2 linked regions of the Homo sapiens genome follow. The protein of the gene in region 2 interacts with the protein of the main gene of each other region in a pairwise test. Each region holds a gene or a part of one and is shown on either strand. Other genes may lie near its edges.

Region 1 (3,725 bases), on a different chromosome or scaffold from region 2:
ACAGCAGAGGAAAAGAGGTCATTCCTCTGTAGCCTTTGTTCTTTTTTGTAAACTTTACCTTTGTTTCTTTCCCTTTATGTCATCTCCCTTCATGTAAATAATTAAGAATCAAATTCACTTTAAAGATAAAATTAGACTTACTGTATTAATGTATTAATCGAGGCCAGGCACGGTGGCTCATGCCTGTAATCAATCCCAGTACTTTGGGAGGCTGAGGCAGGCGGATCACCTGAGATCAGAAGTTCAAGACCAGCCTGGCCAACATGGTGAAACCCTGTCTCTATTAAAAATACAAAAATTAGGCCAGGCGCGGTGGCTCATGCCTGTAATCCCAGCACTTTGGGAGGCCGAGGCGGGTGGATCACGAGGTCAGGAGTTCGAGACCAGCCTGGCCAAGATGGTGAAACCCCGTCTCTACTAAAAATACAAAAATTAGCCAGGCATGGTGGTGCATGCCTGTAGTCCCAGCTACTTGGGAGGCTGAGGCAAGAGAATCGCTTGAACCCGGGAGGCAGAGGTTGCGGTGAGCAGAGATCGTGCCATTGCACTCCGGCCTGGGCGACAAGAGCAAAACTCCGTCTTAAAAAAAAAAATACAAAAATTAGCTGGGAATGGTGATGCACACTTGTAATCTCAGCTACTTGGGAGGCTGAGGCAGGAGAATCGCTTGAACCTGGGAGGCAGAGATTGCAGTGAGCCGAGATGGTGCTACTGCACTCCAGCCTGGGTGACAGAGCGAGATGCTGTTTTAAAAAATATATATATAAATTGTCAAATAGCACTCTCTTTTAGCTACATATGGGTAAGCCAAAAGGTAATCTTGACAGCATTTCATTATGTCTTTTAGTAAGCATTTTATTTATTTTTCAGCTAAAGGTTATAGTGAATTCTCTGAAGAATATGATAAATACATTCGTGCCAAGTGGAAAAATTATGCAGGTGGTGGATGAAAAATTGGTAAGAGATATTATTTCTCACAATAAATGTTAAGCACATAGAAAATGCGCTGTTATTTATTTAAAGGCATAATTCAGCAACCTCTTCGCAGGGACTTGGGCAAATCTGCATGAATCTAGCTCACTGTCAGAACTTCAGAGGGACTTAAATTTGGGGAATTGGTAATATTAGGGTTACAGCATAGCAAATTATGGTTTCGTAAAAGGGGATGGGACTACATTACGACATTGGGCAAATAACCATATTTCATCTGGGAGTGTGGTATTTCCTTCCCTTTATGTAGTGAGTTCACTATTGAAGACTTGGTTTTTTTTCTTAAGTGTCTCAGGGACATCCAGAGATTTTTTTTTTGTAGATATGAGCAAATGACATACTCAGCCTGGCCCCTTATTCTGTAGAGTTCCTCAGTAGCTCTGACCCTGAAACTCATTTGGGCTGAGTGTTTCTGTGCAATCACCAAACCATTTCATTTTCATCCTCATCATGCAGGAAGACTCCATTTCTCAGCCCCGTTTTTGTTGACGCAGAACCAATGAAACACCTAGGGCCTGGCCCCTAGAACTGTTAAAGGGATCCTCATTGCTCTTGATGGCAGATTTTGGGCATTAATGACATTTGGGGTTGGGCAGCTTTTTTTTTTTTTTTTTTTTTGAGACCTCATCTCACTCTGTAGCCCAGGCTGGAGTGCACTGGCATGATCATAGCTCACAGCTGCCTTGATCTCCCAGGCTCAAGGGATCCTTCTGCCTCAGCCTCCTGAGTAGCTGGGACTACAGTCACGTGCCGCCACACCCAGCTACTTTTCTGAATTTTTAGTAGAGACGGAGGCTTGCTGTGTCACCCAGGCTGGTCTCCCAACTCCTGGGCTCAGGCGATCTTCCCGCCTCAACCTCCCAAAGTGTTCTCCCAAAGTGTTGGGATCGTAGGTGTGAACCGCCATGCCCGGCCTGGGTTGGATATTTCTTTGTCGTGGGCTTGTCTACATTCCAGGATGCCCGGCCTGGGGTGGGTGTCTCTTTTTTGTGGGGCTGTCATGTGCATTGCAGGATGTTTAGCAGCTCAGGATGCCCGGCCTGGGGTGGGTGTCTCTTTTTTGTGGGGCTGTCATGTGCATTGCAGGATGTTTAGCAGTGTCCCTGGCCCTTACCCACTGGATGCTGGTAACACCCCCTCAGTTGTGACAACCAAAAATGTCCTTAGATGTTACCAAATCTCCCGTGGTCGAGAATCATTGCCCTAGCGGCTGAGTGCTGTGGCCACATCCTCCCTATGACACTTGTACCTGCCAAGCACCAAACCCATTATCCCTCACGTGCATGCTCTCGGAGCTTTTGTTTCAGGCTATCCTTTATGTTCATACTTACCGGACTTCCTCAAAACAAAAAAATGCTGGCAGGAGCAAAAGAGGATGAGGCCCCCACGTTCCCCGTATGCCTTAATCTCCCCTCTACTCTGAATGTTATCAGGGAGGGCAACATTGCAGAGAGTTTTTGTGCCACGCCTTGGAATCGGACAATACTGGGTTTTAAGGCTGGATCAGTCACATACTAGCCTTGTGTCCTAGGGAAAGTTTCTTAACCTATGAAACCTCAGTTTTCTCATCAGGGAGAATAATAATTACTAATATATATTTCATATGGTGGTTGTAAGGGTTAAATGACATACTGTGTATAAAGCATAGTGCTTGGATGTAATAAGTGTTTAATAAATACCCATTACGTCACATTTGTTTGTTAAATGGCTGGAACATTCCACTTGGGGAATGCTTTGAGTTCCTAGGGAGAAAAAAAATATGTTTAGGTGACATTACATGTAATTACCAAGTTGGTTAAAAAAGTGAGATTCGTGAATTTTAAGCAGATTATCTCAGCAAAAGGCCGTGAACTTAAGTTGTGATCTGGATGTTAGTAGTTGCCATTGAGAATAAATATATGATGTCCACCACTGAATTTGCTCAATGTCTCTGGTTTGCTAAAAGAATGCAGTTACTTCATCTTAGCTGAAGATCAGCCATTAACCATGACACAGGGCTATGGATAGAATAGTGCAGGTTTATCTCTGTGAGTGTGGGAAGGAAATGGTAAGAACGGTATATGCCAGTGGCTAGAGGGTGAATTCGTGCAGAGAGATAAGGAGTGCTTGTTATGATGTTTTTGTGGTGTGGGTCAGGTTAGGTCATCCAAGTGGAATTACTCTCGTTCCTGCCTTCTCTGGAGAATGATGGAAAAATAAGGCAGGAAAAACAATCTGAGAATCTGGTCTCTGTATAGGGGCCCAATATTCAGTATTACATAGAATCTTTTTATAACTACATGATGTAAAAATGCTTTAAAAAATAATTCCTATCACTTATTATGATAGCAGTATCTAGAAAAAATTATATGTCCAAGAACTAGATTTCAAAGCATGCTTTTATTATATTTGTTTATATTATATTATATATTTTTTATTGTTATTATGTTAAATGCTTTTATTAATATATTTGTTTTCCAGCCTGGCCTACTTGGCAACTTTCCTGGCCCTTTTGAAGAGGAAATGAAGGGTATTGCCGCTGTTACTGATATACCTTTAGGTAAAGTTCACTTAGAAGCTTTAAAAAAAAAAGTAATTAAATTCTTTTACAAGTTTCCATTGAGGTGTGATATACATACAGCACAGGTGCTGTATGTCTTAGATATACAGCACAGGTGCACAGGTCTTAGATATACAGCTCAGTGAAGCTTCAGAAATGCATGCATGCATGTAGCCATGACTCAGATCAAGATACG
Region 2 (3,500 bases):
GTCTCTTCTCTTACCTGCTGAACAACTCAATGTGTCAATTTCCTTTTACTTCATGCAGTCAAATCACGCCCCTACTTTTCCAATCATTCCACTGCCCTTCAGGATTTTACTAGTCAAATTGTTAACTTTACCTGGAAACAGTTGTGGAAATGACTGCCATTATGTTAACAGGGTCATATGAAAAACACTTGTTTATCAACATTTATATGCTTTATTGAAAGTTGACAAGTGCAACAGTTAAATACAGTGACACCTTACAATTGTGTAGAGAACATGCACAGAAACATATGCATATAACTACTATACAGGTGATATGCAGAAACCCCTACTGGGAAATCCATTTCATTAGTTAGAACTGAGCATTTTTCAAAGTATTCAACCAGCTCAATTGAAAGACTTCAGTGAACAAGGATTTACTTCAGCGTATTCAGCAGCTAGATTTCAGATTACACAAAGTGAGTAACTGTGCCAAATTCTTAAAATTTCTTTAGGTGTGGTTTTTGTCATGTAGCAGTTTTTATGTAGATCTATATATAAAAGTCCACACCTCCTCAGACAGCCAATGAAACAACTAAATTTCAATCTGTACAACCTAAATAGTAGTTACAGTCCTCTATTGTACAAAATAGTTACACTACATACACAAATATACAATAAGCAAAACAACCTTCATGGTAAGATAGCCTAGGTCCCAGCTACCTGTCACCATTTTGTCACTCTCATAGTTTTGTGTCATCCATTGTTTGAGAAGAAAGAGGCACAGTACTATTGTTTTTTATGAATTTTGGTGACAGTTGTCAAATTTGTACAGTGAACTCTGTTCCCCCTCATTTTAGTCTTTTTACCCTCCTTTCAAGTTCCTCCTGGGGGGAGGAGAGGAGAGAGGCGAGTCCAGTGAGGAGCTCCATCGCTTCACAACCCCATGTAGGACACTAAGCGCAAGCAGGAGAGAGAACCCTTGGAAGTGAGGGGTAGGGAGCCGGAAGGGATGGAAAGGCACACAGCTCCTGAGCATGAATTAAACCATTTCTCAGATATCTGCCAAGCTGCATGAGGTCCCGGTATATCCATGCTAATTCTCGGATTAACCTTTAATTCACCCAACTAAGAAATTTCTCCAAGCCATAAGCATATGAGTGTTTAATACTGGAAAAGAGATAATGGCATATGTCAGTCTCACGTCTCTTTCGCAGCGAGCAATGAAATGGGTGACTGTGGAGGCAGATTCTCCCTAGCACATCTTCTCCGTCTGTTCAGTTCACACGCAGCAGCCAGTTCTGCGGGGGCATAGGCAGCTATGCGGTTGGTCCTGAGCCCTGCGATGCTGGCTGGGCGGGGGGCTGTGTGGTGCCCTGTGGCTGGGTGGTGGCAGGGGGGGAGCCAGTCTGCAGCTGGGCCTGAAACTGGGCAAGCTGCTCAGGACTGGCCAGTGTCTTCAGCAGATTGTTCTCCTGCTCCAGCTGGGAATTTTTCTCTATTAGTTCTTTGATTTGCTCTTTGAGGACCTCCACTTCTTCTCTGACCGCATACATCAAATGGCTTTTCACTAGATCCTGGAAAGAAGACAGAAAAGGTTTAACTCATTATTTGGTATTTTCTGGACTCTTTTGAGTTTCCAAGACATTATTTTACATGGATCTCCCTAACTATTTACATATTCCACCTTTAAAGTTGGTTCAATGACACTTGGGGAAATCTGAATACAAACATGACTGTACAATACTTGAGTTTAACGTATAAATGATCAAGCTTTGTAAAAGTCTGTGCTTCTCTGCAGACGTTGGCCAGAAACGCCCAAGTAAGGCTTCCTGAGACTGGGCCAGAGCCGGGCGCTGGGTCCCCGACTGAGACCAGCAGCGGGGACGTCCAAGCCACAGCGCGCCCACCGCGTCCCCGCCCCCAGGCCCCGCCCCGCGCTCGCCCGGAGCCGCCTCCTTCAGCACCGGCTGCAGCCAGTTCCTACCGAACATGTTGCCGCATTTTCTTCCCTCCACCCCGCCCCCCTCTTTTCGTGATTAAGCTGACATCACAGAAACCTGGGCAGACGTCGCAGCCAATGGGAGCCCGAGTTATTTATAGCTCCGAATTAAAGGTTCAGAGTTTGCCTAGCAACAGTGGGCAGAGAATCCCGTGAGAAGAGCCACAGGCGCTGCTCCAATAACAAAGAACGGCCAAGGCGGAAATAAAAAATAGGAGAAATCCAGGCGCAGGCTAAGAAAACAAAACTTTTTCTCTGATTCTTCTTCATTGTGAAGGAGCCCGCGCCACCGGGGACCCGTTTGTGCACCGTCTAGAAGACCCTTATCCAGGATCCCGACTTCTGGGGCCCTCCCCACCTCCCGGCTCCCTAGTAAAATATTAGGATTCCTAGTAAAGCCACATCGCTAAAGGTGTGCTCACGACCAGCCGAAGGAGATAGTTGGCCAGCGCTTCCCTAATAAATCCCCAGCAAAAAGGGTCACCGTGAGAAAATCCCGTCGTGTGAAACCAGTCCGGGGAAGAAGACCATTTAATACCCGCAGGGCCCCTTTCTCCCTCCACGGCTGCCGTGGTAGGTGGCTCCACGCTGGCCGAATGGAGACAGCGCCGGCATTTCTACGCGCATCAAGAGCAATCATCATCATCTGAACTTAGGGATGCACTGGTTCCACAAAACATCTTATTTTTGTGCTGTGCCCACATTTAGTATAAATGATTTTTCATCAGTACATACCATAGCTTGCTCGATTTTGTTGTCAATAGCTACCACACTTGCACCAGAGGAGCTGAAAAAGAGGAGGGAAAAAGGTCATCGATAAATGGAATTTATCTTAAGCTTCCAAGATAAAAAGGATCTCCCAATTTTGTGATATTGCTAGCATCATATTTTGAATGTTATTTAACACTATGTAATGTATCACCCTCCAGAAAATGCCAGCCCCTCTCTTACTAACGAATATCCAGGCATCTCCCTATTTTAGTAAGCCACAAAGGACTAAATTACATAATGTGGGGAAAGCCTGTTCTCTGGCCAGACTTGCAAAAATAAGGTTTTTTAACATTTCGAAAAACAACATCCATGTCACCATAATCTCTCAGCAATGGACAAAGGAATTCGCCTGGCTATCTTTCACCTGTATTATTATAAGTATCCCACGAATAAATTTAAAGAAACTATCTTAGCCGACATTTACCTATTATCAAGTCTCACAGAAGCGTTTTCAGTCCCCAGCAAGGATGACAAGAAAGAAATTGAAAAATGTCTCAGTTGGTAAACTCCTAGATCCATCGCCACTGGTCTACACCATTGGGATTTCATGCAATTGCAGCCAAAAACACCCTCGTGGAAAAAAAGAGGGAACACCAGCAGCCTTGTATAAGCTAGATAAAATCTTCTGGCTTTCCGCAGCCCAGGGAGAAACAGAAAACGGCAGCCCTAATTTAAAGAAACCCAGCTTCTAGGGCTTGATGATCCCAGGCAGATGCGGATCCCAGTGCCGTGAAGAGGCGCTTCCCAGATC

What was found.
Region 1: the proteins of TSC22D1 (region 2) and ASAH1 interact in a two-hybrid assay, tested with the Homo sapiens proteins (one large-scale study listed by BioGRID and IntAct).

Annotation. Positions count from the first base shown.
Region 1 is NC_000008.11:18,067,024-18,070,748, reverse strand, and holds part of ASAH1 (acid ceramidase isoform a preproprotein), read left to right. Parts: intron 1-870; coding exon 871-957; intron 958-3,450; coding exon 3,451-3,529; intron 3,530-3,725. UniProt on the Homo sapiens protein: Lysosomal ceramidase that hydrolyzes sphingolipid ceramides into sphingosine and free fatty acids at acidic pH.
Region 2 is NC_000013.11:44,433,331-44,436,830, forward strand, and holds part of TSC22D1 (TSC22 domain family protein 1), read right to left. Parts: exon of another isoform or gene 3,299-3,500; coding exon of another isoform or gene 3,174-3,298; intron 2,766-3,173; coding exon 2,714-2,765; intron 1,554-2,713; coding exon 1,296-1,553; 3' UTR 685-1,295; coding exon of another isoform or gene 635-684; 3' UTR 1-634. UniProt on the Homo sapiens protein: Transcriptional repressor. Acts on the C-type natriuretic peptide (CNP) promoter. Acts to promote CASP3-mediated apoptosis.